Linked DNA regions of Homo sapiens. The protein of the gene in region 7 purifies or fractionates together with the protein of the main gene of each other region. This does not show direct contact. Each region holds a gene or a part of one and is shown on either strand. Other genes may lie near its edges.

Region 1 (4,565 bases), on a different chromosome or scaffold from region 7:
GGGCATGGCATGTGAACCCAGCAGTGGCCATCCCAGCTGACGTGGGTCCTCACTGTTCTGCCTTGGGCTTTGTGGGCAGGGATAGGAGCTTCTGCTCTCAGAGTCAGTTCCCAGCCTGGGCAAGTCTGGGTAGGCAGTACTTTCCCTAAGGGCCACTCACTTCCCGGTCCAGGCCACTGGAGATGACGCTGATGGTGCCTGTGCTCCGGTGAATGGTGAACATGAGGTCGTGTGGGTCCTTTGGTTCTTGGCTATGGATGGAGTAAGCAACCACCCCATTGTAGGTGTAGATGGCATCATCCTCATCCGTGGCTGTCACCTGCATCACAGAAGTACCTGGAGAGAAGGGATGAGTATCTTTTCCTCCCAGTTCCAACTCCAGCCCTGTCTACTTCTGGAACTCTTTTTTTCTTTTCTTTTTTTTTTTTTTTTTTTTTTTTGAGATGAAGTCTCACTCTATCACCCAGGCTGGAGTGCAATGGTGTGATCTCGACTCACTGCAACCTCTGCCTCCTGGGTTCAAGTGATTCTCCTGCCTCAGCCTCCTGAGTGGCTGGGATTACAAGTGCCCGCCACCACGCCCGGCTAATTTTTTAATATTTTTAGTAGAGATAGGATTTCACCATGTTGGCCCAGCTGGTCTTAAACTCCTGATCTCAAGTGATGTGCCTGCCTAGGCTCCTGAAGTTCTAGGGTTCCAGGCGTGGGCCACCGCGCCCAGCCTCCATCAGCCATGTTCTAACACTCCAGTCTTTGCTGCATTCCCTGTGGCTGCCATGCTCTCAAGAGCTTCGCATTAGGCGCTCTGTATTACCTAACAGTCTGCACATGGTATTTCTAATCTTCACCACTCTTCAAAGTTGATATTATTCCCATTTTTAGATGTGAGAAGTGAGGCTCAGAGGTCAAGAATATGCCCAGGATCACAGCCGGTAAAGAGGGCAAAGCCAAGATTCAAATCTAGGTCTTTGAAGCTCCAAAGCTAGTGGTTCCCAAGCTTGGCTGATCATCTGAAGCTTTAGGGAAAATTTCAAATATACAGATTCCAGAGCTCTGCTCTAGGATCATTCTTATTCAGGAACCTTGGGATGGAAGGGGGGAAATCTGGATTTTTAAGAAGATCCCAAGTAATCTGATACACAGCCAAGGAAATCAGGTATGGTGGGATCTTTTAGCATTTAAGGGTGTGGGCCCAGCCCCGTAGCAGTCCCCTTCCCAGTCCTCTTACCTGGTAGGACTCCCTCTAAGACACTCCCTCGGAAGGTGTCCTGGGTAAACTTGGGCTTGTGGTCATTCTGGTCGGTCACGATGATGGAGATGTTCATGGGGTCCTCCACTGAGGCACCATTCTCTGACACAGCGTGGCCAAAGAGCTGTGGGGTACACAGCTCTGGGGTCAGCCCGGTGCCACCCACCTCACCAGGCCTAGGATCCCACTTCTGAGGGGACATTTACAGTAGACACTAAAGGCTACTTGCCTCATACTTGGCAATCTCCTCCCGGTCCAGTGGCTTATTCAACAACAACCAGCCTGTCTCCTTCTCTACAGCGAAGACACCCTCAGGGGGGCTGTCTGCCCCCGGCCCCGTGATGCTGTAGAAAATCTTGGTGTCTCTATCTTTATTAGACTTGAGCTGGAGGGAAAAGAAAATGGCAGCTGACAAAGTAACAAATATCCCATGACTGTGACAAAGAGTCCTCTGTGAAGAGGGGCACTGCCATAGGAGAATCTGCTCACTGAACAGGAGAGGTTTTTCTGTCTCAGCCCCCACATTCAGTAGCAAGAAATCTCATGCAGGCCTTTGGATGGGGGTCCCTGGAGCCACCAATGCTTCCCAGGAGAAGGCACAGTCGTACCTGATTCAGTCTCTGGGGGAAGGGACCCTTGCCATTTTCAGGGACAGATATTGGAGCAACCACCCAATCTCTCTTGTGTCTTCGTAAGATACGTTTGGATGGGAAGATCTTCAATGGATTCCTTTCCTTCAGTGACCTTCTTTCCTGCAAGGAGAGAAACTCCTTAACCCAGATGTGCAAATAGCTGGGACATGCTCAACATCCTCTCACCTATAAGAGTTAAAAGGGTGGCTGGGCATGGTAGCTCACGCCTATAATCCCAGTACTTTGGGAGGGTCACTTGAGCCCAGGAGTTCCAGAGCAGCCTGGGCAAGATAGCGAGACCCTAAGTTAAATTAAAAAAAAAAAAAAGTTAAGGGTGAGGAGACCTAGATGAGCCTATTGCAAGGGAAACTCGGTGTTTACTTATACAGGAGGACCAGTGAAATATACTACAGCACATCCATCTAGTGGAATACTATGCAGCTCTAAAAATAAGAATGAGTATGCTCTCTATGTGCCAAAAGGGAAAGATCTTTTTTTCTTTCTTTTCCTTTTTTTGAGACGGAGTCTCGCTCTGCCACCCAGGCTGGAGTGCAGTGGCACGATCTCAGCTCACTGCAACCTCTGCCTCCCAGGTTCAAGTGATTCTCCTGCCTCAGCCTCCTGAGTAGCTGGGATTACAGGCATCTGCCACCACGCCCAGCTAATTTTTGTATTTTTAGTAGAGACAGAGTTTCACCATATTGGCCAGGCTGGTCTCGAACTCCTGACCTCAAGCAAGCCACCCGCCTCGGCCTCCCAAAGTGCTGGGATTACACGCGTGAGCCACCGCATTCGGCCTGATTTTTGATTTATGCTGTCAAATGGAAAGATTAAGGTATAGGGCAGCTTAATAGAGTTTAGCATTTTATTTAACAAACACATTGTGCTTAATATGTGCCAGGTACTGTTCCACCTTTTGTGTAAAAGGGTAGGAAATAAGACCATATAGTCATATTTTCTTGTACATGGATGAAGTCAGGGAGAATACAGAAAAAAACTAATAGTGGCTATCTGTGGAAAGAGGGTAGACATTGTGCTGTGCTGATACACTGTTAAGTAGAAAAAGAAAGGTGCAGACATGTGAACAGCATCTTAGCTTTTGCATAAGGAAAAGAATCTGTTTTTATATATGTATATATACGAAATAGGTAACATGTAAAAACATGTACAATATAAATAAATATGTAACACATGTAAGTATAGACTATATATAAACTCTGGAAGGAAAGAAACTGGGAACAGTGGTTAACTGCGTGAAGGGGTGAAGGGGGCTTTGGGCAAATGGAGGCAAACAAGGGGAGATTATTTATTGTATAGCTTATTATTATTTTTTATTTTTGAACCATGTGGCTATATTAGCTATTCAAAAATTAAAACGAAGTGTGGCCAAGCACCCCAGATGTATCTTCCTGGAGGCTCATGGGATTGGCAGGCCTGCATTTAGAGCTGCTTTCAGTTGGGGTTAACATGGATGATAAGGGAAGGAAGTAAAGGAAGGTGGGAGAGGGAATCCGAGGGACTCAGTACAGTGGGTGATTACTCACAAGGCAGCTCTTGGCTCCACTGGCCTGACCTCAGGCACCACTGTTGGGTAGCTGCAAGCACTACCCCCCTTAGATCAGTGCTCACACCCAAGCTGTGGACAGCTGAGGACTAACACTACCTCCTCTGAAGGGCTGACTTGGCTCACAATGGCCACAGCAACCAAGGGCTCCTGGCCAGCAATTTGGGCATGCACAGAGAACATCTTTCTTTTGTCCTGCAGGTGGACATGGTATTTTACCTGGACTGTCTCGCCATTCCGCACAGTGAAGTCATCATTATCAGTGCTAAACAGAGCTGGCTCTTGCCCAGGGCAGCCCATGAATACTGTGGGGAAGGGGAAGAGAGAGCATTAGGAAGGCAGGAGTATTCTGGAAGTTGCCCCAGGAAAACAAGACTGACAAGAGTCCTCTGACTGGATCCAGGACTGCTAAGTGGCTGCAGAAGGGAGACTTGGCTTACTTTCTCTGACCAGGAGTGTGACTAATACAAGTTTCAGAGGAGGCTTCCAAGTTTGGTTTCGAGAGGGAAGATCGCCTGGTGGTCAGTTTGTGGGTCAAACTCTTCTTTGTTCTTGGTCCCAGAGGACCAAGATCATAGACATTCATGGACATTAGCCCCAGGTGGCCTCATGTGACATGGGGTTGACTAAGGTCATAGCTAGAGGCAGAAGATTTTCTGAAGGCTGTGAGAGTCTATTTACACACAATATATATGCCCACAGGATCACCTGGACAACCTTTGGTTGTTTCAGTTCATTTCGCTCCTTCTGAATCCCCAATGCTTGGCTACTCTTTAAACAAGCACTCCGAGTTAGTAACCACCATTCACCAGCTGGAGGTGAATTTCATCCCTATAACTATGATACCAAGGTAGGTATTATCCCCCACTTTTTTTTCTTTTCTTTTTTTTTTTTTTCGAGGCAGAGTCTTGCTCTGTCACCAGGCTGGAGTGTAGTGGCACAATCTCAGCTCAAAGCAACCTCCACCTCCTGGGTTCAAGTGATTCTCCCGCCTCAACCTCCTGAGTAGCTGGGGTTACAGGCGTGCGCCACCATGCCCAGCTAATTTTTGTTTTTTAGTAGAGATTGGGTTTCCCCATGTTGGCCAGGCTGGTCTTGAACTCCTGACCTTGTGATCCAC
Region 2 (4,565 bases), on a different chromosome or scaffold from region 7:
CGTAGACGTTGTTTTTGGTGTAGAGGGACTCACGGTCCAGCACTGCCGCCGTGGTGATCTGGCCGTTGGTGGCATTGATGTGCAGCCAGCTCGCTGGGTCTGACAGCTTTGAGTATCTGCGGAGACCACAAGTGCAGGGGGAGGTAAGGCTGGGGGTGGGCGGGGCTGCCCTGGATCCCAGGCCTCCTTGGCCACACCTCCAGGGCCTGGGCCTGGGCCAGTGTCTCTGTCTCCTTGGAGCCCCCCAGGCCTTGTCCTCCTCTAGGGCTTCCCCTCCACGTTGGACTGGCACCCTCCCCCCCGGCCCCACAACAGGACAGGCCACGCAGTGGCTACGGGCACCAAGCTCATCCAGTAGTGGGTGGTCTCAACTCACAAGGACCCTGTGGGCAGACGCCCTCATTGTCCCCATCGAACGGACAAGGACGCTGAGGAGCAGAGAGGGCAGGAGGTTGCTGAGTCTTATAGCTATGAGAGTGTGGCCAGGATCGGGCCGGCCTGTGTCTAGACAGTGCTGAATGAGTAAGCACCGGTCACAACACTCACGATTGATCAGGGGCTGCATCTGGCTATCTGGGACTAAGGGGCTGCGGCTCCCTCCTGGAAGGACGCCTTAGGTTGGAGATGCCCCCGACCACCCATCTGGGGGAATTCTGGGCTGTGGGTTTCATGGGGTATTTCTGGACCCTTCTGTATGGAACCTGGGAAGCTGCAGGCAGGGACGAGGCATGTCCTGTGCACCCACCTCACAGCCTGCTGCATGAACCGGTCAGGGTCCACAGCTGAAAACGTGGTCAGCACGGTGCCGGGGGGCACGCCCTCCTCCAGGCGGATCAGCTTGTGGTTTGAGGGGAAGTAGGGAGCCTCGTTGATGTCCATGATGGAGATGGTCACCCCTGCCGTGGACTGGAAGGACATCTGGATTCCGCTGGCCAGGGGCGCCTGGTTGGACACCATCACTGTCAGCATGAAAGCTCTGTTGAGCTCGTAGTCGACTGCCTGGAACAACAGATCAGGGCTGGGAGTGACCTGGCACAGCTCCCGTGGGAGTGGGCATGGGGGGACACATGGGAAGGTTGGTCTCCACCCCTCCCTGAGCCATGTCCAGCTCTTCTCTGCTCTGCTCTTTAGCCAGGAGGCCCCAAAGGGTCCCATCTCCCAGGCACCCTTATCTTCTGGCTTCCTGCTGGGTTTGGCCGATGGGAGGAGAGAGGGAGGAGGTCTAGGCCTCCCAGCCCCTGTCCCATGCTGGGCTGAGGCAGAAGCTGGGCTCCTCCTGGGGGGGCTGCAGCCCCCGCTGGGCGGCCCCTCTTCCTGGCCTGGTAACCCCGTCCCTACCTTCCTCCTTTGAGCCTAGTGTGGGGAAGGCTCCTGACGTTGTTGGCCAGCGGGGCCTCACCAGTTGCGGAGGGTCAGATGGTGGCCCCCAAAAGACATGTCCACCTGGGACCTGTGAATGAGCCCTTATTTGGAAATAGCGTCTTTGTACATGTAAGTTAAAGACAGAGGCCCTCATAACAGACAGGCAGGGCTGGGTGCGGTCATGCACGCCTGTAATCCCAGGGCTTCAGGACGCTAAGGTGGGAGGATCGCTTGAGCCCAGGAGTTTGAGGCTGTGGTGCACTGTGATCACACCATTGCACTCTAGCCTGGGTGACAGAGCAAGGCTCTCCAAAATTTCAAAACAGAGAGAAAGGGAGAGGGATATTTGAGACACACAGGTGCAGGGAGGAGCCATGTGGCGACAGAGGTGCAGTCTGGAGTGAGGCAGCTACAGGCCAAGAAACGGGAGAGAGGCAGGCAGTGGGTTCTCCTCTACAACCTCCTAAGCGAGACCGTTCCTGCCGGCACCTTGATTTTATGTCTCTGACTCGCAGAGCTGGAACAGAAGACAGTTCTATTGTTGTAACCCACCTGGTTTGTGGTGACTTGTAACCGCAGCCCCGGACAGAACCATGCCAGGTCTGCAGTTCCCATCACTGCTGCACTTGGCCCCTGCATTCACACAATTCTTTGGTGCCCTTCTGGTGCACCAGGACCCTGGCTGATAAACGCTAGAGCTACGGTTCTGCAGTGATGCTGTATTATCAGAAAAGCTTCGCTCAAGCCTTTCCTACACATTTTGGGGAGGGAGGGAAGTTACATGGAAAAAGCTTGGGGCCCTGAGACGTTCAATGGCAAAGCTTGCAACAGTTTCACTGGAAAAAAACACAACACATTGTGTCTCAATTGCATTAAAATATTCTGCTTAGATACGTGCAAAGTAACATATGCATAAGAGTATTCATTGCGTAGTATCTGTCGAGACAATATGCTGGAAATGACCCAAACATCCATCAGCAATGGTGGGCTGCACAGCCTGCAGTACATCTGCATGGGGAGACACTTGCAGCCGTAAAGAGGAAAGAGAACACCCTCTGTGTACTGAAGAGGAGAGCTTTCCAGGATCTACTGGTGGGCAAAAAAGCAACCCACATAGTGTGCACCTTTTGTGCAAAAGAGAGAGAAAAATATGATTTGTATATGTATTTGCTCATATTTGCAGAAAGAAACATCGTGAGGATAAACCAAAAACTAATAAAAATGATCATCGTTATCAGAGGGAAGGAATGGGGTCAGGGTCACAGCTGGGAGTGTGAGTTTGTGAGTTTGCTCTCTATTTCTTATCATAGAGCTTTGATTTTTTTTTTTTTTTTTTTTTGACAGAGTCTTCCTCCATTGCCAGGCTGGAGTGCAGTGGCATGATCTCGGCTCACTGCAACCTCTGCCTCCTGGCTTCAAGTGATTCTCCTGCCTCAGCCTCCCCAGTAGCTGGGATTACAGGTGCCCGCCACCATGCCTGGCTAATTTTTATATTTTTAGTAGAGACGAGGTTTCACTATGTTGACCAGGCTGGTCTTGAACTTCTGACCTCAGGTGATCCGCCTGCCTCGGCCTCCCAAAGTGCTGGGATGACAGGCGTGGGCCACTGCACCCTGCCCAAAATGTGCTTTTGAGGGTGATGCATTCTGACAGATTTAGGTGCGGAGGATCATGAGGTCTGGTAATTAAAAAAACGTACTCCTGCAAAAAGTGCAGATTGCCACGCAGCAGCGTGCCTATCACTGTGAGATTTACACAACACCATGCTTCCATGCAATCACCATGACACCACGCTTCCATGCAATCACTGTGACACCACGCTTCCACGCAATCACCGTGACACCATGCTTCCATGCAATTACTGTGACACAGTGCTTCCATGCAATCACGACACCACGCTTCCATGCAATCACTGTGACACCACGCTTCCATGCAATCATGACACCACGCTTCCACACAATCACCGTGACACCACGCTTCCATGCAATTACTGTGACACAATGCTTCCATGCAATCACGACACCACGCTTCCACGCAATCACCATGACACGCTTCCATGCAATTACTGTGACACAACGCTTCCATGCAATCACGACACCACACTTCCACGCAATCACCATGACATGCTTCCATGCAATTACTGTGACACCATGCTTCCATGCAATCACCACGACACCACGCTTCCATGCAATCACCATGACACCACACTTCCATGCAATTACTGTGACACCATGCTTCCATGCAATCACACCACGTTTCCATGCAATCACGACACCACGCTTCCACGCAATCACCATGATACCACGCTTCCATGCAATTACTGTGACACCATGCTTCCATGCAATCACCACACCACGCTTCCATGCAATCACCGTGACACCACGCTTCCATGCAATCATCACGACACCACGCTTCCATGCAGTCACTGTGACACCACGCTTCCATGCAATCACTGTGACACCACACTTCCATGCAATCACTGTGACACCACGCTTCCACGCAATCACACCACATTTCCACACAATCACCATGACACGGTGCTTCCATGCAATCATCACGACACCACACTTCCACATAATCACCATGACACGCTTCCACACAATCACCGTGACACTGCGCTTCCATGCAATCACACATTTCCATGCAATCACCAAGACACGCTTCCACGCAATCACACCACACTTCCACACAATCACCGCGACACCACGCTTCCAATCACGACACGCTTCCATGCAATCACTATGACACCACGCTTCCACACAATCACACCACGCTTCCACACAATCACGATACCATGCTTCCACACAATCATGACACGCTTCCATGCAATCACTGTGACACCACGCTTCCATGCAATCACCGTGACACCATGCTTCCACGCAGTCACCATGACACCACGCTTCCACGCAGTCACTGTGACGCCATGCTTCCATGCAATCACAAAACCACGCTTCCACGCAATCACCGTGACACGCTTCCAATCACAACATGCTTCCACGCAATCACCGTGACACCACGCTTCCACACAATCACGATACCATGCTTCCACACAATCACGACACGCTTCCACGCAATCACTGTGACACCACACTTCCATGCAATCACCGCGATACCACGCTTCCACACAATCACAACACGCTTCCACGCAATCACCGTGACACCACGCTTCCACATAATCACGATACCATGCTTCCACACAATCA
Region 3 (4,565 bases), on a different chromosome or scaffold from region 7:
TTTCTCAGAATCCTAGAAGCTCACAGTCCTGTCCACATGTTTCTGCTGGTTTTAATCTGAGAACTATGCATGAGAGGTCAAAGAGGGAGACAAGAAAAAATGAAGTGGGGTGGGAACAGAGTTTTCAAGAGAACTTCACCCAGCTCAGCACATTTGCCCCTTCGTACTCCCATGAGGTCAGCCTAAAATGGTCAGTATTTCCATTTAACTGCAAGAATGAAGACAGCCAAAAGTACATTTCCTTTTACTCTGGAATTACTGAGGATAAGAAAGTCAGTTAAGAGTGCGTGTATAGAAGGACCTTTTTAGTATCTTAAAGTAGTTGTAAGACATCACTTTCCACATGGAAGCTGTGATATATAGAATTATACATGGTATTAAAAGAAGAATTTGACCAAAGCTGCTGAATATAAAAATAACTATGGCTTAATAGCAAGATAGTATAGTATGAGGTTTGGTAACCTGCAAACTTGGGTCTAGATTTTTATCTTGCCACTTGTTAGCTGTGTGAGTTTGGGAAAACTATTTACCTCTTAGGGTTATGGGGGTGATTAAGTGAGCTTAACAGTGCCTGTTACATAATAAGCACTCAATAAATGGGAGGAATTTTCCTATTACCTGAATTGGGTCTAGGTTCACACTGTGGCTCGTCATTAAGGAGATATGTGGCCTTGGGCAAGTTACTAAAGCTTTCTAAGCTATAGTTTTCCTCATCTATAAATCAGGTCCTAATAATACTTATCTTACAGTGTTTTTGTGAGGTTCAGATGAGATACCAGCTAGAAAAGTACCTGGAATGCAGTGAGTGTTCAATTAGTGATAGCTATTAATTATAATCTGTGCTAAAGATTTCTGGACTTGTATTCCTATGTACTGCTTAGGAGCTGTGGTCCTTAGACACATGGCCCTGTCTGGCTGAGCTTCAAATAAAGAACCCCGCTAAGAAAGCTCACCATGCTGAAGGCAGTTATGGTGAGGGTAAATACACTTGGGTACCAAGAGCACTCTGGAAATATGCAGTGGGTGATTAAATATGCCAGTGTCCTATTTCTTAATTTACATTATGACACCTGTCATCAGAAACACTTTTTAAATTTACATTACACAAAATGAATCTAGTCCTTCTTCACCACGCCAAAGTTAGGATTTGCTATCTATCCCCAAGGATGATATTCCAGGCTTGTTCCCAATATGTCTTATTTTTTTGCTTATCTTTTCTCATGTAATGTAGAAAGTAGCCTCCTCTTCTCAGAGGGTAAATACAAGGGTCAATCCCTGATTTACTCTAGGTTCTTGGTGGAGAACATACATACTGGATAGAGAAGAAACCCCTTCTCACCTTCTTGCCCTCAATAACCATGAAGATGCATCCTACCACCGTCAGGGCAATCATTAGATAGCTGATCTTCACTCGCATCTTGTTCTTTGCAGCATCAAGCATCTCCAACCTAGTAATACAATGAGATCATGAGAGAAAGTTATTAACTTTTCCCTTTCTGAAGTTGCTCAGGATAAAAGGCTGTGTATAAATTCAAAATGTAGTAGTGTCTATAAATATAAATAGGGAGACCTAGAGATCTCTTTAAAAAGGGCCTAGAGATCTCATAGGACTTTGGGGAGGATGAGGCATTTTTCGTAACTCATTTATGTATAAAATACAGGATAGCACACAATTAAGTACAAAAGAAGAAAACAAAAAGAGAAGTCAAGAACAAAGCCAAAAAAAAAAAATGGGCAAGGCATATTAATCTACACTTGCTATGGTGGACCCCAATTTTGGCTCTCAGGTTTCCAAGCAGCCTATAAATGCTAGAAGTGAAACAGTCATTTCTCCCTGAGGTTCTTAAGAAGACATTATGTGATGTAGTCATCGTCTGAAAACATCTCGACAACAGATACTACAATAAGCTTCATATGTTTCAACACAAAGCACAATTCAGAATGATCAAACATTGGAGAAAGTTAACCAATGTGCTCCATATACCCAGCTTTTTGCTCTCTGTCTTGAACCCAGAATAGATTTGAGAATATCTAAAATAGTAGGAAGATCCTTTAAGCAATGCTCCTCAATATTTATCTTTTTAAACAAATGTTTTGCTAAAATTGAGTGACAGTGAACTTGATATTGTGGTCTTTGGCAAGTGCCAAAGTGCAGCTCTTCTAACCTATCTACTGAATACAGACCCATGTGCCTTAAAAAAAAGTTGATGGTTGGTTCATCATTCTTGTGTGAAACCTAAGAGGCTTAATATAGAAGAGTCTAAAGGCCAATCTACCTTGGTGATTTTGCAAGTAGGCAGTGAGTCATGGTTCTATTTTTAATTTACTTTATTTAAAGAGATGGGGTCTCACCATGTTGCTGACTCAAAATCTTAGACTGAAGCGATCCTCCTGCCTCAGCCTCCTGAGCAGCCGGGGCTATAGGCATGCATTGCCACACCTGGTGGTCACGATTCTGTTACCTCGGTGTCTGGCAGAACCTCAAGGCAGGGGATGTGGAGCCCTTATGGGGCCCAGGATTAACTTATGGCCTTCTCAGTAGATGTGTAAATAGGAAGTGATTATCTCTAGATGATGGGATTGAAGTGCTTTCTTTCCCCTGAGATATTTAACATATATTACTTTTAAAATTGGGGAGGGGAGTACTTTAAAAATGCTTGGAAGGAGGCAAAGAGTCTGGGATGTTGCAGGTGGAAGGAGGAAGATGATGAAGCCATGTACAATGTGATGTAGGAGCTGGGACCTGTGAGGCAGCATGTGGACGGGGTTCTCCAGGCACTTAAGCTGGGCCTGCAGGCTGGCAGGAACCCAAGACAACTGCTAAGGACTGTCAAATTGGTCAGTTAGGAGCACCTGAGATTCCACTAACCACAAACTGACTTCCCATGTTGACGGTATTTTATGGGATTTGAAGTGCCATGATCCTCATGAAAAGTAATCCATTCCATAGGGAGTAATAGGAATGGGCAAGTTAAGCAGTGCCTGTTCAGAACTACCAGCACAAGGACAAATGGCTGCCCAGGCCCAGAAAAGACCCTTCCAGAGTGATTCGTGAGGTAGTATTTTGGGCCTGAGGGGATCTTGGAACCAACTATTAGGCAGACTGAGGAAGGTGTTCTATAGCAAAGCCTATACAGCATCTGTTAAGGCCATGGGTGTCTACCAGCTTATTTTCTGCTGGTATAGGAAGAATTAGGGCATAGGCAAGAACCTGATGTCACTGTTATTTCCAGTATTCTCTTATTTCCCAGAAGAATACATGACTTGAGCTAAGAAAAACCAGGGCTTTCCTGCTGAAATAATTCTAGTTAAAGTAATGTGCTATCAATTTGACTGGCAGAAGCAGAAAAGCTCTATTAAAGCTGTTGTAAACAGAAAGTAAATACTACATATTTCCCTGGGAAAGAAATCCTGAATGAGCTCAGATCTTTTTCAATCATGACTTGAAACCAGAGACCAGAAGATCCAGGAATAGTTTCTTGCTGACAGGGAACTTCCACGAGCTTTGTCTGAAGTCCCTGTCCCTGAATAGGATGATGCCTCACAGAGGAGATGACATCTATTTCTCAGAATCTCTTTTTAGCCAAGATGCCAGCCAGTCAGGGTCTTTAACATGAGGCTAGGGCACTGGTTCTCAACCAGGGGAGATTCCCACCCCGCTCGTGCCCCTTGGACATTTGGCAGTGTCTGGAGACATTTCTGGTTGTCAGCACTGCCGCAATGCTACGGGCATGTAGGGGGCAGAAGCCGGGGATGCTGCCAAACATCTTCCAACAAATAGGACACCCCCCTGCCACAAAGCATTATCAAGCCCCAAATATCAATAGTACTGAGTTGAGAAACTGGGTTGGAGGAACCTGCACTCATCATCTACAAACTCTGAAAAAGTTCCATGATCCCAGCCAAGATCCCTTCCCTTAGGTTTAAGGAAGTTGGTGACAGGAAGCACTCTTTCCTGAATTCCAGAATATTGCAATTAAATACTTTTACACCTAAGGTTGAGTACTTAAGTGGATTTGGGGGAATACAGTCATTGTCAATGGTACTTAATTTATATACCTAGATTAAAAACAAACTTTAAAAAAGTCACACTTCTGTAGCCAGGGGATGAAATCAAATAATCAATTGACTTCAGAGTACCTGACAGTTCTTCACCAGTCACTGTGTAACTTAACAATGATAAGACACAGGTTTTCTAGCATTGTTTATATTCCAAGTACTTACCAAAGATAAAACATTTGGAAAAGTGAAAAATGTTTTCAAATTTGGTTGAAAAGTTTTAAACAGTTGGAACTCAGAGGCATTGCTTTTCCCTTAGATCAGTGAGAAATGAAAGCTGCTTGTAATACTAAATTCAGCACTCACGAGACAGTCTCTGGGATTTCATCTTCCTTTTTGAAGCGACCTGACCATATGAGGATCTTTTTCTGCCAATCCGTAGGTTTGTGTAAAGGCACTCTGTTGTAAGTGCCTATGAGAAAAACCAGACAAGAAATTTTATGTGTTTGAGATTATAACTCTCAAATTTAACAACAGAAAAATGGTATTAGTGCTTTTTAACTAGT
Region 4 (4,565 bases), on a different chromosome or scaffold from region 7:
GTTTCACCATGTTGGTCAGGCTGGTCTCAAACTCCTGACCTCAGGTGATCCACCCGCCTTGGCCTCCCAAAGTGCTGGGATTACAGGTGTGAGCCACAGCGCCTGGCCTCTATTTTCTTGTGTATTACATTATTGTAACAAGTTTCTATTCAGCTTTCCGAGAAGCTCTTTACTCTGATACTACCATACCTAAGTTAGGAGGCACTGTAAACAATAATCCAAGAAGTTTAAGATTTATTTTCAATGCCACTGCTCCCATGAAAACTCAAAGTAACCCTTCCCTACTCTGATTTACTACAGCATTAAGTAATGTCATATAATGTAATCTTTAATTCCTTCACTAGTTGATCTCTTCTCTCCAACTAGTCTGCCTCTCCCATCAAGGACCTTACCTTAGTCATACATGTATGCTTTTTCTTACTGCTCCAGCAGTTAGCAAAACTGGCTCACAGATGTATTAAAGAACTTCTACAGGACTCTTTTCTAGTTCAAAGTCTTTCTTCCACCAAACACTAGCTATTCAACAGACAGGAGAGAACTAAAATACCTTGGTGGCATAGACTTCATATTGCTCTCTGGCTCTTCAAATACATTAGGACTTGCATCAGGAGTTACTGATATATACGGGGCAGGTACAGATGTTGAACGTAGATATCTCATTTCATCCTGGAATAGATTGTCATCTTGATAGCCCACAAAATTTTCATGATGATGCCTGCATTAAATCAAACCCAATAACTTAAAGCATGATGGCAATACAGATCCTCTCCATTTTTAATCTCTTTCATAACAGGAAAAGCAGCACATGTAAATCATAGTTAAAGGCAAAGCATTAAAATAATCGTAGATGTAGGTAGGTGAAAATAAAAGTCTGATAATTTTATTCATCAACATTCCAGGTACCACGAACATTTCAAATCCAAAATTGAACTCAGTTTCTTTCCTTTTGAGAACTTTTCCATCTTCCAGTGTTTTGGTGAATAAGCCCACCAACCATCCAGTTGCTTAAGCTAAAATATTTCCAGTGTTGTAGTAGGCTTAGCCCTCTATCATCATCATCTTTCAAGCCCATGATATTAGGTTTCCTCTCAGAGCCATTCTCTCTTCTCATTCCCTATCATCACTGCCTTGGTTCATGCTTATTATTTCTTGCACAGACCACTGAAATACAAGCAGTTACTTTTTTGGGTAGGAACATACATAAGATCATATTTGAAAAATATTAGATATATGAAATTTTCTGTGGTTCAGGGTGGAAGGGGTGCCCATTCCCCAGACAGCTAAAAAGAAAAAAATCTATAATTATGCTGTGTTAGCATTTTTCACGTTTTACAATTTGATTCTTTCCTTTTCAAAATGAACAAATAGTTGCTAACCTAAGTCCACTGAGTGGTGTGATTCACACTAAAGATCTATTGTATTTTGGCATACTGATGATTTCCACCTCAGTCTCAAATGTACTTAGTCTGATATTTTCATTTTTGTTGCTTATTCATTTTATTGTAATAGTAAGCACAAAATTTTAAAAACCATACAACTCTGCTACACAAAGAGGACAATTTCCAAAATGGAACTGTTGGTCGGCAAGCCATGTCAGTGGGCAATATCTAGATTACCTTCATTTGTCAGCTGATGAAAAAAATTTGGTTTTGGTATATGAAAGGCTCTTTTGGAGTGTCAGTGCATGATGTGTGAAAGTACAGGCTGCACCACTGAGGTCCAATATATGAAAACAGAATACTAACAGGTTTCTATCTCCAGTAATGCACTTTTATCTAGTCTCCACATTAGCTTCCACATTCCACAGTGATTTTTTAATTGCAAACCAGTTCATGTATTTCTCTGTTTAAAATTCTTCCACTGTTTCCTCTGCTCATGGGATAAAATGCAATCTTAACCTGGGCTACAGAGCCCGACATTACTTGGGTGAACCAATCACTTTGAACGGGCTTTCACATATTTCCTCCAGTAGCCAGTCCTTTAACAACCCGTGATTCCTGAAATGTGTAATGAGATTTCATTTGTGTCTTTACTCACCTGGGTTATTCTTCCAAGAGTCGCTTTCTTCCTGTCGCTTGCCTGACAGATTTCTATTTATCCTTTGAGACTCTACTAAAGGCTCAGACCCTCTGGGAAGCCTTTTCTGATTTCCTGGGGAAGATTCAGATACTCTCCATCTTTTATGCTCTAACAGCATCTTACATACATACTTCTATTGTAGCACTCCTCACATGGCATTTCAAATGTTTCACTAACATGTCTGACTTGACATCCGAGTATGAGTACATAGAAGCCAGGATTTTGTTATATTCATACATTCAGGGCCTAGCACAAGGCTGGTAGGTGCCCAGTTGGTATTCATTTAAATGCTAACAGAATGAATAATTTACGAAATAAAAGACTGCTAAGGAAACACACTTTCTTTACACTTCAGCATTTCGCACTAACAGAGTGAAGTCAGCCTACCAAAGAGTAAAAGATAGCTATAGTCTTATTTTCTAAGACATGTTGTGTATTAATACAATGCAAATTGATGAAGCATTTTTATAGTTTTTTAAATACCTATTACCATAAAGTCATTATGTCAGTCAAGGCAACTCAAAAAATAAATGCCTGGAAGTTTGTTTATAGTACACAATAGCTAATAAAGTGTAGGTCAAATACCGAACTACCCTAGATATCAATAAACAATCGCTGTTAATCCAAAGGTGATTAAAAAACAACAGCAAAATTTTATTACCTAGCTAATGTCTGCAGGTAGAGACAAGGCATTTTCACAGGAAGATCCTCAGAAATGCCTTCTTTTACACTGGGCAACTGAGATTGGAATGGCTTTGCAGGATGGTAACACAGAATGCTCGGTTCTGCTGCACTGCTCAGGGACAGCAGGAAGAGTGCATTGGCTTTAATCACCTGGTGAGCTTCCATGGTGGGCAAGGCACGAGGGGTCTTGACTTGCATTGGTTTTCTCCTAGATTGTTTGACCTGGCGAAGAAAAAAATCAAACTAATCTTTTCTGACTTACATTAAAATCCTTAGTTTCTTAAGCTAAGTATTTTGAGTTTCCAATAAAAATTATTAAACACTTGTAAAGCTATTTTAAGATAATAAGATTATAAAAAACAACATTCATTTCATATTCATCCTGGGCTGACCAAGACAATTTTGTATCAAACACAAACTATACTTCCTTTCCTTCTTCAGAAAAATTTAACACCTAACTAGTTAAATCTAAATGTAATTCATTTTTTTAAAAAGTAAATCATTTCAGTGCGTGTATTCAGTGAAATTTTTTAGTTAGGTGCCACTAGAGTGAATAAAGAAAAGAGAGAGTAGATATGGAATAGGAAAACAAAGGAGCCAAAAAAAGAGGAAAAGAGAAAGAAGGTGAAAAGGAAAGCTCTCCATAGAGAGAATAACAGACAATTAATAATAAAGAGTTACACAACAAATATTTGTCAATAAGGCATATGTAGCAGAGGTTATCTAGTGTTATTCCAATATATAGTTAATTTTTAAAATTAAAAGCATTTGACTTAGTACAAATATTAAATTTGTATATGATTTCCATTATAAAAGCTGATCTTTTAATATCAACTATGTGGAATTATCTGATGTAGTAAGATTATAACAAGGTATTTTTATACAGTGTATCCATATCATTAAAAGTATAGCTCCAAATGGAATAAAATACCTTCTCCCTTGCAGCAGCCTGTTTTTCGCGGAGGTATTTTTCTCTACAGCGATCACATACCAGATACCAAGTGCTTCCTCCTATGCCACCATCACCACAGTTACCAGCCCATCCTCCACAAAAATGCCCAATGCTATTGTAACCTTGTCCACCAGCATATCGGCCACAACCTTGAAACAATACCAAAAATAAATATTTAACACTCCAAGTGTCCTTAATAGTTTGATCCTTATTACTCATACATTAATGACAGATTTACCTTCTCAAAGAAAGCAAAATACTGAAGTAGATATCTTATTTTTCAGGCTATTAACTATATCAGAAAAATAGCTTACTTGATCAAAAAGCAATCAATTAAATGATGCCCCAAATATGAGAGATACTTAGTTTCTAATCAGGCATATTAAAAGAGAGATAGAATATAGGTATATTTAGATATACTTAATTATGTCAATAAAATTAGACAATACAAGTATAAAAGTTCTATAACAATGATATATTTTCAGAAATCACATATTCATAAGACATTTGAGGTATAATATGTAGACAAAGAAAAAAATTAACCAAATTTGTATTAGGTGAATTTGGAATATTAGTCAATGTTACAGAAATCATTACATTTACTGAAAATGCAGTCTTCTGATAAAACAATATCACTTCCGTAGGAAAAAGCCTATAGAAATCAATCTAATCTAATTTAATTTGCAATTCTGAACAGGAAAATAGTAAAATCAAAGGAGATGCCCTGTGTGTATGGGCATGCCACTGTTTCTGCTGTGTGAGACAGACACATTAATGGCACACCCTTTGGGTAACACATAATATTTTTTAAAACATGCTACATGAAAGTGAAATAGCACTAAATGACCTG
Region 5 (4,565 bases), on a different chromosome or scaffold from region 7:
CAAACGCCAAACAAGTCAATTGGTTGTTTCTTTTGGCAAAGCTGATGACATTTTCATGATGAAAATGTTCCAATTATTAGGCCAGGCACGGTGGCTGATACCTGTAATCCCAGCACTTTGGGAGGCGGAGGCGGGTGGATCACCTGAGGTCAGGAGTTCGAGACTAGCCTGGCTAACATGGTGAAACCCCGTCTCTACTAAAAATACAAAAATTAGCCGGGTGTGGTGGCACGCACCTGTCATCTGAGGTACTCAGGGGGCTGAGGCAGGAGAACTGCTTGAACCCGGGAGGCGGAGGTTGCAGCGAGCCGAGATTGCGCCCTTGCACTCCAGCCTGGGCAAGAAGGGCAAAACTCCGTCTCGAAAAAAAAAAAAAGAAAAAAGAAAACAAAATGTTCTAATTATTACAATGTATTTCTGTTAGATTTCCATGAAACATGGGGATTTTTAATGGCAGGTTTAAATTTTTTTTCACTAACAACCCCAAACCAAATTCTACTGTTATATGTACAATGGTATCCATTTGAAGAACTAATGACATCAGATACATTCTACAGCAGACTTTTCATTTCTCAACACAAATGAGAAAAAGGACTACATTCTCCAGGGCCAAACAGGAGGTGAGGAAGGTAATGTGTTACCGTAAATAGGGTTAAATCAGTAGTTTGGACTGACACTTCAAGTTATATCTCCTAACTGAGGTTATTCTTACAATCAGTTTTCAAACAATAGGGAACATATTTCTACCTTAAAACATGTATAAGGGCTCAACTGTAGCTTTCCTTTCTATACATCTTGAAGTATATACATTGTGTAAAAGGAAACTAGTGAGACATTTTGAAAAATAAATCTATTTGCCAAATACCATATGTTATTTAACATAGTTAAAAACAGCAGCAAACTAGTGAGTTAACAGTTAAAACTCTAGGAAAAAACTGCTTTGAAAACAAGCCTATTTTGTTATAAGCCTAAATATCAACCCTAGCATTTGATTTTAACCTTCAAACATTTGGCGCTTTTTCCAAGAGGAAATTACAACTGCCTTTGCATATGCCCCTGGTTTAAATACTTGCAGAAAAATACCCATGTATCATCACCTATTCAGCAAATGCCTGAAACCAAAACAATAATCCAACATTGGACAGTAACATTTTACAAACAGCATAAGATCCCAAAAGCACAAGAAATACCTTGGCATTATATAAAAAGAAATTAGGTGGACAATTCTAAATACAACAATACTTCTTAATTAGGGACCATCTAGAAATCTACCACATACTACCCTAGACTCAAATGTCATTATACTAAAATTGTAGTCTTTAAGCAAGAATTAAAAACAGTTCCATAATAATCATACTGATCTTTCACTTTTCTCAACAGTTAAACACAAATGCTATTTGACTTTTATGACTAATCATCCCTCTATTCCTTTAGTCCAGTTTCACAACATAAAAAATAAATGTGAACAACAAATCGGTAATGGTTTCACATACTTAAGCAAGAATCCTAGTATTAGGATTATCAGTAACAGAAAATTTGAATTTTAAGAGAATAAAGATAGAATGTGCTTATTTAGAAAATGGTCAATAAGGCCGGGCGTGGTAGCTCACGCCTGTAATCCCAGCACTTTCGGAGGCCGAGGCGGGTGGATCACCTGAGGTCACAAGTTCAAGATTAGCCTGGACAACATGGTGAAACCCCGTCTCTACAAAAAAATACAAAAAAAAATTAGCCAGGCGTGGTGGCAGGCATCCGTAGTCCCAGCTACTTGGGAGGCTGAGGTGGAGAATCACTTGAACCCAGGAGGCAGAGGTTGCAGTGAGCCGAGATTGCACCACTGCACTCCAGCCTGGGCAACAGAGCAAAACTCTGTCTCAAAAAAATAAATAAATAAAATAAAGAAAAAGAAAAAGAAAATGGCCAATAATCACTCATCTGAAAAAAATGCAAATAGCTGTCAGGAAAAGCTGGCAGAATTTGAACTTGTAAGCTAAACTTTTAGTGTGTATCAAACTAGCATTAAGGAATGGCTTTCAAAAATGAATACGGGATATCAACTAAAATAGAGGTTATTTTTAGATGGCAACATTATGGGGAATTTTGATTTTTTTTCCTGTTTGAATATGTATTTTTCCAGTTTTCTACAAAGAACATATACTATGATTTTATAATTAAAAAACAAATACTTGTGGGAGTGTTTTTAGATTGCACATAATTAGTACCAAATAACTAGAAAGAACACAGACTAAAGATACGAAAATAAAATCAAGGTTTTTTTCCATCAGATATGCCCAAGGAGAATACTTTTTGGATGAAAAAAAAATGTTTTCCAGATTGTTTCCACTCCTAACATATGCAAAAATGAACATATTTAAATGCAAATTCCTATCATATACACTACAATTTTAAAAAATAGTAAAAAAAACAATTTTAAATGGAGCTTCCTCGAACCTTTTAATTGAAGCCTAGCTTCAATGTTGAATGAGGAAGCAAAGTATCTCATTAAAAAGTTGGTCTGCAAAGCACAAAGCTGGCCTGCAAGGGGACTTGAAGGAAGCAGGCTGAGTGTTTGAGTAGTGAGATCTTTGCTTTGCTCTTTAGATCCTTCAGTAAGCTAAGGTCCTTTTACCTGAATGGATGTAATTTAGCCTAGTTTTCCCATAAAATAATGTAATGGATAATTCTTATTGACTAGGGATTACACTTCATGTGAAATTCCTCAGTGACATTCAGATTAATTCCAGTGTCCACAATTTAAGCAACTTTCCATAGGAAATTAAAATCCCAAATCCAAGGACCTGGTATTTTCATGCTAAAGAAAGCATTCCAGCGTAAAGTGGAGTTTAATTTGCTTCACTGTGTGCATCTTAATATATCCAAATGAGTAAAACTCAAAAGCAACCGTAAGTCAGAATACTATAAAACATGTTTTGTTGAAAGAAGATAAAATTCCTTCCAGAGTATTGTCTAATTAAATTAACATATTTCTTTGTAACTAACTTTTCCAAATTCTCATTTGCAAATCAGATTCATACAGTTAAAACTGAATATACAAACCAACATATTAGAAAGATCAAAATTTACATACTCAAACGTGACTCCTTAAGACTGACTTTAACATGTTCTTTCAACTTTATTCAAATCAGATGGCCCCCTCCAGCATTTATCATTTTAAAAAATGAATTTAATGCTATAAAAAGGTGATGTTCACTTTAATCCTGTTTGCCTTCACGCCACTGTCGTGAGCCTTCATTCCAGGCCACATACACAAAGAGGGCCAGCACCACATGGACGGCGACCACTGCAACAATAGCAGCGTAAAAATAGCTGTCCCTATTGGACATCCCAAGGGCGCCTATCAAGAGAAAAAAAACAGTTTCCATTTTATTGCAAAATTTACCAAAGTACAAAAAAAAAAAACAAAGCATCCTAATTTTTATGATGTATTTATTTAACTAGTCAGGCAATTAAAAAGTAATATTTTGGGTGGTAATGAATAAAGTATTCACTAAAAGATATGAGTACCTTCTATATATTAAGAACATTATGTTGGCCGGGTGCAGTGGCTCACGCCTGTAATCCCAGCACTTTGGGAGGCCAAGACGGGCAGATCACGAGGTCAGGAGATGGAAACCATCCTGGCTAGCACCGTGAAACCCCGTCTCTACTAAAAATACAAAAAAAATTAGCCAGGCGTAGTGGCAGGCGCCTGTAGTCCCAGCTACTCGGGAGGCTGAGGCAGCAGAATGGCGTGAACCTGGGAGGCAGAGCTTGACGCGAGCCGAGATCGCACCACTGCACTCCAGCCTGGGTGACTGAGCGAGACTCCGTCTCAAAAACAAACAAACAAACAAACAAACATTGTTTTAAACAAAACCATAATTATAAAGACTTCAGGCCGGGTGCGGTGGCTCACGCTTGTAATCCCAGCACTCTGGGAGGCCGAGGCGGGTGGATCACCTGAGGTCACGAGTTCGAGACCAGCCTGGCCAACATGGCGAAACCCCGTCTCTACTAAAAATACCAAAAATCAGTCGGGTGTAGTGGCGGGTGCCTGTAATCCCAGATACTCAGGAGGCTGAGACAGGAGAATCGCTTGAACATGGGAGGCGGGGGTTGCGGTGAGCCGAGATCGCGCCATTGCACTCCAGCCTGTGCAACAAGAGTGAAACTGTCTCAAAAAAAAAAAAAAAATTTCAACATCAAAAAGGGGACTTCATTCTCTCTTCCTTCCGTTATCTGACACTAAAGTCCATTCCCCCAAAATTCCTCCTCCCATGTCAGCCAACCCCTATTCTTTAAAAGGTACTAAGAGAAAGGATTTGCAAGCTATTTCACAGAAAACCATAGGAAAACTGTCAAGCTGAAACAATAAGTTATTTCATAAAGACTCATTATGAGCAATATGATTTTTTGAAAAGCTAAACAAGAAAAAAATAAGAATACCCAGTTTAAAGATATAAAGAGGTCATAAAAGCACAGAATCTTAAATTGGGGGAAAACATCTTGTTTTAATGGGTCTAAGATTACCTTCAAATATGTAAGATTTAGTTGTGAAATATAAC
Region 6 (3,554 bases), on a different chromosome or scaffold from region 7:
CAAATTTGGATCCGTTTTTGAAATGCTGCCTGTTACAGCATTACCCCAAACTAATGCAGTCACTAAAAGAAAGTTATTGTCAGTTGGCTTGGGCTGGCTCCGATTCCCTTGTTTTCCTGATTCCCCAACTGAGCCTTCAGCTTCAACCCAGATCTGAAGATACCAGGTTCAGGGAAGTCAGTGATTGGAAACTGAAGTGGTTACGTCCCAGAAGTCCTGATGCCAGTTCCTCAGGAACATCTGGCGACCTCTGCCATCTAACAAGGGCTGTCTGCTGAGCTCCGCCAGGTATGAGGCAGCCAGGGCTCAGTAGCTGGGCAGTCGACTCCGCAAGCTGGCTCGAGTGTTCTTCAGAAGGCACCCCAGAAGGGCTCCCGGCTTGCAGATCTTAGGAACTTTCATGCTCGCACTGGTATTTCCATTTCACTTTGGATGCTCATCTTGGGCTGCTGTCCATTCGGCAAGAAAACGCAGTTTTCTCTTGGGTGTCTTTCCATATACTCACAAATATAAGTACAAATGTTTTAATCTGCGATTTGTATTACACTTGCAGGGTATATTGAGCTAAGACAACACTTCTGGGTTTGACTTGCCATGGGCGTTAGTTCCTAGTTTTCCTAGTACAGCTACAGGTAAACTAGTTCCTAGTTTTCCATGATGGCACTTAACCAATGTGGCATTTCCATATTTACACCAACAAAGATCCAGGAGCTAGGACTGAAGGGTGGAAACTGCAAGACCTGAGAAGGCCTCAGACTTTGGGCCTGGTGTCCCTCATTGCCTCCACAGATGGAGAAAAGCTCCCAAGTAATGCTGTGTGGTGCTATGGGGACCTCTGCCTACCCTACTGTGGGGCTTCTTTCCCCTACCCCATTCCTAATCCAGGAATTACTCAACAAGATCATAATTTAGAATTTGTTTTATTATATTGGTGCCAACCAAATAAATGCCCAACCACTGTTCTTATGAAGTTACTGAGTTCTTAAAAATGATGCCTAAAAAAGGTATCAATTTAGTTATATCAATTTAGTTATGGCCGGGCTGCCATATAGAAAAACATGATAAAACTGTGAAGGGTACTAGATTTGAAATAGATTCCAAGAAATAAAAATACCTAGATTGTCAGAGAAGGAAAGTTCATAGCTTAATTCTTTGGTGTGGTCCATCTCACAAAGTATATATAAAACTAGGAAAAGTCCAAAATAGTTGGATATATTTAAGCTGTTTCCAACATGCAGTTAGATTTGTGTTTATTAAATCTGCTTTTCCATATACATACAGAAAATTTAAAAAGAATAGAGAACACATTTCCAAGGATGAAATTTCCACATTTATTTTTCTTTTATGTGAATAGAAAATGGCAGTGAAGTGTCCTATGAATGAGGCGAGGAATGGGCATGGCGCTGCGGTACCAGCCTGGACGTTGTGCTTCCAAAGTACACTATGTGTGGTGGAGACAAAGGGTGTCGCGGTTTGCTTTTAATTGCTCACAGTTCCTTGGGCTTCTCATTTGTTTTTGAAGTTGTCAGTTTCTTCAAATCTCTTTTCAAGTGACACATTGCATTACAAATGATGGCACTTAACCAATGTGGCATTTCCATATTTACACCAACAAAAGAAATTTACAAGACATAATAGCATACAATCTTGACATTTAGTAATAGCAATAAAACATGGGCATCCATTTTATTTTTTCTGTACAAACTATCAGAACATAACTTTATTCACATTAAAAAAATCATCTTTAATTTGATTTGACCTACATATCCCCCATTTCATTTCACCCATTTCTCAAACCTCTCATCACGTCACCCACACCTTCACCAGACTACAGAATCTATAAGTAATTAGATCTAACACCTAAATAGAGCTTAGAAAGTCCTCTCCCAAACATTTCCTCACTTCCCTGATAATTCCTCAAAAAAGAAAAAAAAAACACACTTCATTCATTCCTTCCACTTCACTTTCACATTTCAATCATCAAATCAGCAAGATGGACTTTTCACCTCAATCTGAACAAGGTTAGAAAGAAAGAGTTCCTCTGTTGGGCATCTTGATGCTACACCCATGAGTCTGGGGACCCTGGGTACTGTTCTGCTCTATAAGAAGGTCGTTTAGTGGAATAAAAGTCTACATAATTTGTGGTCGATTTCAGTCCATACTGTGTTGAGTAATCAGTAGAAGCTGGAAAGTGAACTCGGTCATCAAAATAAGGATCTTCATAGCTATGAGGAGACTGCAAATACAATCTGTATGCATCAAAGTTCTTTCTGTTGGAGTCATCTTGACTATAATACAGCTGTTGATGCTGTTGACAAAATGAAAAGGCAAATAAATAAAAGCAATTTTTTAAAAATACATGTGTTAGGAAAATTAATGTGGGCTTCCTGCTTCATATTTTTAAAGCAATATTCAATATTTGCAGTTTAAGGTTAAAAGCTGTTTCTGGTGCACACTATGCGTTTACTATTGGACTCTAAGGATTTTAAGCTGCATTCTCAGGCAGGCTGCTGAGTTTCCTGTCCTAAGACCTCTAGAGAAGCAGGTGCCTCAAGAAAGCCTGAGATCTCAGGGCAGGTGGCCCCAGAAACCTCCCCTCTTTACTGGAGGCCCTGCTGTGTGCTCAGCTGTGGAGGCACCTGTTACCTGGGCATGCCGAATGAGAGGATGGTCTTGATATTTGGTTTGACACAGGGGAATTATTAGCACATCACTAATTTAGTCAAGGACTGGGTTTCTGGGCCTTGGATAATTGTATAATTACCGAACCATCTTTTAGAACATTTACTTCAGATATGAAGATGGAGTCCACCCCTACATTTTAAAAGATGTATGTGGCTAGGTGAACAACAGTCACACTTTGGAAACTCTGCTGTAAGTTGTAATATTAAAGGAATAAGCAATCTCAAGGCAGAAGAATAGTAAAATTAGGAGACACACGTGAGCAAATATGGTTCTAGAGGAAAAGGCTTCCCCAAGCCAGGGCTAAGTCCATCTGTAAGTGGGCAAGACCAGGCACACGTGGGCACCCACACAGGGCACACTGCTCTCCATTTCCTTTTGTTCAGTCTTAGCTTTGACCTCACACTAATTTCTTCAAATTGTGATGGTTATTATGTCTATGTTCTTGATTATGCCCAAATCCCCCTACTTAGTAAGATGTAACAAATTTACCACATAGAAACCAATGTCATGTCCTGGAACTCAATGCATTCTAACATTATAAGGATTTCAGAGCTAAATTCTCCTTTCAAGCCAGAGTTATGATTCTGGTCTATTTTTCCTGACTAAAAAACCATAGCATAAATTATGAATAACTTGGAAAGTTCTTTTTCTTCCACCTACAGAGAAAAGATGACGAGAAGGAGAGGTCTTAGAACACATCCTTATCTGAAGGACAGGATACAGTCTTGTTTTAGGAAACTCCAGCTGCTCTGTGTCATTGAAAGGGAAGAGGAGAGACCAGATGGTCCAAGTTCGCCATGGCACTGGTAAGGACCTGAGACTGACTGCAGGCCCTTCATGAAAGCAAAGCCTGGGTGTGTTATAACCGC
Region 7 (4,565 bases):
TTCTGCTGCTTCCTCTCTATATTTTTTTTTGCTTGGCTCTTTAAATTGACTCAGCTCCAGGTAAGGTCAGAAACTTCTCCCGCAAACAGACCTTCATTTGCCCCAGTGGGGTTGTGTATTCAGGAGAGGAGGCTCTCCCTTTCCCACTTCCGCAGTTGGGGCACTCACAGTATTTGTGGTGTCTCCCAGATTTTGCAGGAGCAGTCCGCTTCCTTCAAAGGGTCTGTGGGTCCTCCCTCATAGGGATAACTTCTACTCACTGTTTAAGATTCACCTTCTCTGAAATCCCACCACTTATGACAACTTGGATGAACCTGAAGGACATTATGCTAAGTCAAATAAGCCCGGCACAGAAAGATAAATATTGTATGATTGTATTTATATGTGGAATCTAAACAAGTCAAACTCATAGAAGCAGTTTTACCATAGTTGCCAGGGGTTGGCATGTGGGGGAAACGGGGACATATTGGTCAAAGGGTATACACTTTCAATTATAAGATGAGTAAGTTCTAGGGACCTAACTCACAGCATGGTGAAGACAGTTAATAATAATGTATTGCTTACTTGAAATTTGCTAAGAGAATAGATCTTACATGTTCTCACAGCACATACACACAAACGCAAAGGGTAACTGTGTGGTGATGGATATATTGATTAATATGATTGTAGTAATCATTACACAATGTATATGTATATGAAAGCATCATATAGTACACCTTGAATCTACACAATTTTTATTTGTTAATTGTACCTCAATAAAGCTGGAAAAAAGATTCACATTCTCTGAGAAATTTTATTTAATCCCTTCAAACTGAGAGACTGTCCTCTATGCTGTGGGTAACTCTATTTTAGTTCCCATGTAAATGTGTTTATTTGTCTCCCCTCCTGATCTTTATCTTTGCATTTCCAACATTTAGCACACTGCCTTGATGCAAAGTCGAGGCTCAGCATAGGAGAGGCTCAACATAGTACAGGTTGAAGGAATGGTTGAATTAATTAACTGATAGCTTAAAGCCCTCCACTTGTATTTTTTAAAATAATATTCCTAAATATATTTTGTTCTCTTGCCAGGGTTAAAACTCATATGTTACTTCTCTACCCACTTGCACAGACTTTAAGGTCTTTTTAAATCCCATCTGTGTGTTTCTTCGTCAGCTGGAAACATTTAATGTCTTCTTAACTTGGAAATCTCCTGTGAGCTTTCTTCTGGAGCATTTAAAAAAAGATTATAAATAAGTATCAATCCTTGAGGAGCTGAATTCTTTATACTTCTCCATCCAAAGAAATCCCTGATTAACTTTACTGTTTAATGCCTATTTTGACTTTATGTAAAATTTTAGGGTAAATGGACAAACAAGAACCTTTGAACCTATGGTATCATCAGTTAAAATAAAACAACTACAAACACCACTACCACAACATACATTTAGGAGGTGACAGTCATTAATTTCTCTTTTATCTGTGTGCCTATTTACTACATTAAGTTTATCATGCTTGATGTCCTTTGGGAGAAATGGTCATGCCTTGTCAGTTTTCCTTACATAAACTCTGCCACCTGCCCCTTTGCCCCTGTCCACTGCTGTAACGTTATATTTGTTATGTTCACTGATCTAGTCCTTTTTCGCAGGCGTCAAGGACTTGCTATTTGGGCTCATGGATTCTGTAATTGCCTTGGGCAGAGATGACAAAGCATAGGCTCCAAATTCAAAATACATTTGTATTTTTAACATTTCAAAGTCCCCATGGCATTAAAGTTACTACAATTTACCATCAGATTACACATTGCTACCATTAGAGCAAAAGAAATAATTTTAACTTTAGCTTCTTGATTATAATCTATGTTCAAGTTTTTCACCTTTCAGAAACAAACTAAACCTTGACACTGTCCTTCTAAATAAAGAAGCATAATGTATAGGTCACTTCAGAGAGAATTATGTATTAAGTTGTGATTGTACAGTAATATCAGAGAATTTGCCTTACCTTTTTCTAAATATTTATACTTTTAATTATTACTCATCTGAGGAGCTGTGCATCCTTTCTAAACATTAAACTATTTATCCTCTAAGTTACACTGATGACTGTAGGTAGAGCTTGTACAACGTTGTGGGAAATACAAAAATCACTAAGATTATCAGTACAGAAACAGTACACCAAGTTTGACAGATGTAAGGAATAAAACAATTCCGTATTCTTTCTACACCTTTTCTCTATTTTCCACTTATATTCCATTTCTGATGTGCTATGTACTCAATCTTGTGAGAGGGTCGGCAGAAGTATCATTATCCCATTTTTACAGATAGAAAGACAGACACCGAAAGAGATGAGTTACCTAGCTCACAGTGCTAATGACAGAACTAAAACTAAAACCCAGACCACATATACAAGGGGGAAATCGTAGCAAGCCAAGAAAACCATAGTGTCTTTTCTTGGGTGATTAGTGACTATGAACAGTGGGTTGATAGCTACTTCTAACTGTCCTCCCTACATTTTGTAACGAAGTTAATCTCTCCAAAGCCTGAGTGAAGTAGCAGACAGTGTTTATTTTCAGAAGGGAAGGAACTAAAAATATAGTAGCACAAGCCATTTATTAACCTCATGCAACATTATTCCCAGAGTAGCAGAGTCTTGTGAAAAGGCATAAGGTTAGCAATCAGTAGACTTAGGTTTAGATCTCTGTTCCTTTACTAGTTTCTATCTCCTTGCACCAAACACCTGTTTAGTTAAAATAGGACTAATAATAGCAGCCTCATTCCCTCAAAGACTATTGTCATGATCAGTAAGATACTGTATAGAAGCACTTTATAAGCTACATGATATTATACAAATACAAGTCCTCATTCTGTGTAGCAAATAAGAAATTTTTCCACTTTGGGAGGCCGAGGCGGGCGGATCACAAGGTCAGAAGATCGAGACCATCCTGGCTAGCATGATGAAACCCCGTCCCTATTAAAAATACAAAAAATTAGCTGGGTGTGGTGGTGGGTGCCTGTAGTCTCAGCTACTCAGGAGGCCGAGGCAGGAGAACTGCATAAACCCAGGAGGCGGAGCTTGCAGTGAGCCTAGATCGCGCCACTGTACTCCAGCCTCGGCGACAGAGCGCGACTCTGTCATAAAAAAAGAAAAAAGAAAAAAATTTTTCCTATGTAGGAAATAATGTCACATAGTTTTTAGGATAAGGGCTTGGAAGTTATACTGACGTGGGTTACAATACAAGAAATACCACCATCTAGCTCTGCCACTTGGCTAAGAAACTTAGTCTCTTGAAACCTTAGTGTTTTGAGTTTTAAAATGGGAATAATCACATCTCTCATGAGTTTTTATAAAGATTATATGAAATGTTGTATATGAAGTGAATGAACTATTGTAAATGTCCCTTGAATTAGTTTTTTTTAACTTAAGCTTTTATTTGGGAGTAATTTTAGATTTACAGAAAAGTTGCAAAGGTGGTACAGAGAGTTCCCATTTACCTTTTTTCCAGTTTTCTCCATTGTTAATGCTGTATCTTACATTTGCCACTACAAAGAAATGGATACTGATGCATTGCTATTAACTATTAATAATGGTTATTTGGATTTCAGCAGTTTTTCATGAATGTTTTTTCTGTTCCAGGATCTAATCCTCAGTACCACACTGCATTTAGTTATGTCTCCCCAATCTTCTCTGTTCTGTGACAGCTTGTCAGTCCATCTCCTGTTTTCCATGATGTTAATGGTCTTGAGGAATACTGCCCAGGTGTCATTTAGGATGTTCACCAATCTCATTTTGTTTGTTGCTTTTCTCATGATTAGACTGGAATTATGGGTTCCTGGAGGGAATACCACAGAAATGGCATACTTTTCCTGTCACAGTATATCAAGGGGTACATGATATCCATGTGATATCACTGATTATGTTAAATTTCATCACTTGGTTAAGGTAGGGCTTGCCAGATTTTTTTCTTGTATATTGAGCTAGTTCTGATCGCCTATCACTTAGACAGGGCATTCTCTTTCCTCTCTTCTCTCTGATGTAATGCTATTCATTTACATTTACTGCAAATTGTCATCTCTGAAGAAATACCTTCTCGGACCATTCAGCCTAAAGCAGCTTTTCCTTTCAAGTCAATCTCTATGACACTTCACTTTTGTGTTTTCTTCATAGCATTTATTGTCACCTGAAATCATCTCGTATATTTGTTCATCTAGTTCATTGTTTGTCTGTAGGCCCTTTCCCCCCAAAAGAAAGAAGAACAAGGTCCTTGTAGGATTTTTTCATATCTGTACACTGGAGTCCAGCACAAGGGCTAGAATATGCTAAGTGCTCAGTAACTAATTGTTGAATAAATATCAAAGAAAGAATGATATAGGATTAATTTATTAGTATTTCTGAAAAAGAAAAATAGCTGAATGGTGGGAGGTTTCATTAGTGTTCTTAACTCAATTGGTCTAATTTTAACGGAGAGGTTAAATGCAATTATCAACATCTATGGAATGAGGTAATCAGCATCCTTGTAATTCAAGCTCCCATGTAATGCACTTAATAATGTGAATGCCAGAGTATTTTAGCTACTTATAAGGATTTGACTG

The links.
Region 1: the proteins of CTNNA3 (region 7) and CDH3 purify together in Homo sapiens (affinity purification with mass spectrometry; 2 studies listed by BioGRID and IntAct, with this or other methods). This does not show direct contact.
Region 2: the proteins of CTNNA3 (region 7) and CDH4 purify together in Homo sapiens (affinity purification with mass spectrometry; 2 studies listed by BioGRID and IntAct, with this or other methods). This does not show direct contact.
Region 3: the proteins of CTNNA3 (region 7) and FAM162A purify together in Homo sapiens (affinity purification with mass spectrometry; 2 studies listed by BioGRID and IntAct, with this or other methods). This does not show direct contact.
Region 4: the proteins of CTNNA3 (region 7) and MYCBP2 purify together in Homo sapiens (affinity purification with mass spectrometry; 2 studies listed by BioGRID and IntAct, with this or other methods). This does not show direct contact.
Region 5: the proteins of CTNNA3 (region 7) and VMA21 purify together in Homo sapiens (affinity purification with mass spectrometry; 2 studies listed by BioGRID and IntAct, with this or other methods). This does not show direct contact.
Region 6: the proteins of CTNNA3 (region 7) and PKP4 purify together in Homo sapiens (affinity purification with mass spectrometry; 2 studies listed by BioGRID and IntAct, with this or other methods). This does not show direct contact.

The regions. Positions count from the first base shown.
Region 1 is NC_000016.10:68,675,570-68,680,134, reverse strand, and holds part of CDH3 (cadherin-3 isoform 1 preproprotein), read right to left. Parts: intron 3,751-4,565; coding exon 3,665-3,750; intron 2,002-3,664; coding exon 1,858-2,001; intron 1,635-1,857; coding exon 1,479-1,634; intron 1,374-1,478; coding exon 1,229-1,373; intron 337-1,228; coding exon 161-336; intron 1-160. UniProt on the Homo sapiens protein: Cadherins are calcium-dependent cell adhesion proteins. They preferentially interact with themselves in a homophilic manner in connecting cells; cadherins may thus contribute to the sorting of heterogeneous cell types.
Region 2 is NC_000020.11:61,919,885-61,924,449, reverse strand, and holds part of CDH4 (cadherin-4 isoform 1 preproprotein), read right to left. Parts: intron 1,000-4,565; coding exon 746-999; intron 117-745; coding exon 1-116. UniProt on the Homo sapiens protein: Cadherins are calcium-dependent cell adhesion proteins. They preferentially interact with themselves in a homophilic manner in connecting cells; cadherins may thus contribute to the sorting of heterogeneous cell types.
Region 3 is NC_000003.12:122,404,164-122,408,728, reverse strand, and holds part of FAM162A (protein FAM162A), read right to left. Parts: intron 4,472-4,565; coding exon 4,366-4,471; intron 1,449-4,365; coding exon 1,340-1,448; intron 1-1,339. UniProt on the Homo sapiens protein: Proposed to be involved in regulation of apoptosis; the exact mechanism may differ between cell types/tissues.
Region 4 is NC_000013.11:77,092,618-77,097,182, forward strand, and holds part of MYCBP2 (E3 ubiquitin-protein ligase MYCBP2), read right to left. Parts: intron 3,865-4,565; coding exon 3,695-3,864; intron 2,986-3,694; coding exon 2,741-2,985; intron 716-2,740; coding exon 548-715; intron 1-547. UniProt on the Homo sapiens protein: Atypical E3 ubiquitin-protein ligase which specifically mediates ubiquitination of threonine and serine residues on target proteins, instead of ubiquitinating lysine residues.
Region 5 is NC_000023.11:151,403,706-151,408,270, reverse strand, and holds part of VMA21 (vacuolar ATPase assembly integral membrane protein VMA21), read right to left. Parts: coding exon 4,531-4,565; intron 3,356-4,530; coding exon 3,213-3,355; 3' UTR 1-3,212. UniProt on the Homo sapiens protein: Required for the assembly of the V0 complex of the vacuolar ATPase (V-ATPase) in the endoplasmic reticulum.
Region 6 is NC_000002.12:158,679,183-158,682,736, reverse strand, and holds the end of PKP4 (plakophilin-4), read right to left. Parts: intron 3,492-3,554; exon of another isoform or gene 3,348-3,491; intron 2,309-3,347; coding exon 2,060-2,308; 3' UTR 1,308-2,059; downstream 1-1,307. UniProt on the Homo sapiens protein: Plays a role as a regulator of Rho activity during cytokinesis. May play a role in junctional plaques.
Region 7 is NC_000010.11:67,220,139-67,224,703, reverse strand, and holds part of CTNNA3 (catenin alpha-3), read left to right. Parts: intron 1-4,565. UniProt on the Homo sapiens protein: May be involved in formation of stretch-resistant cell-cell adhesion complexes.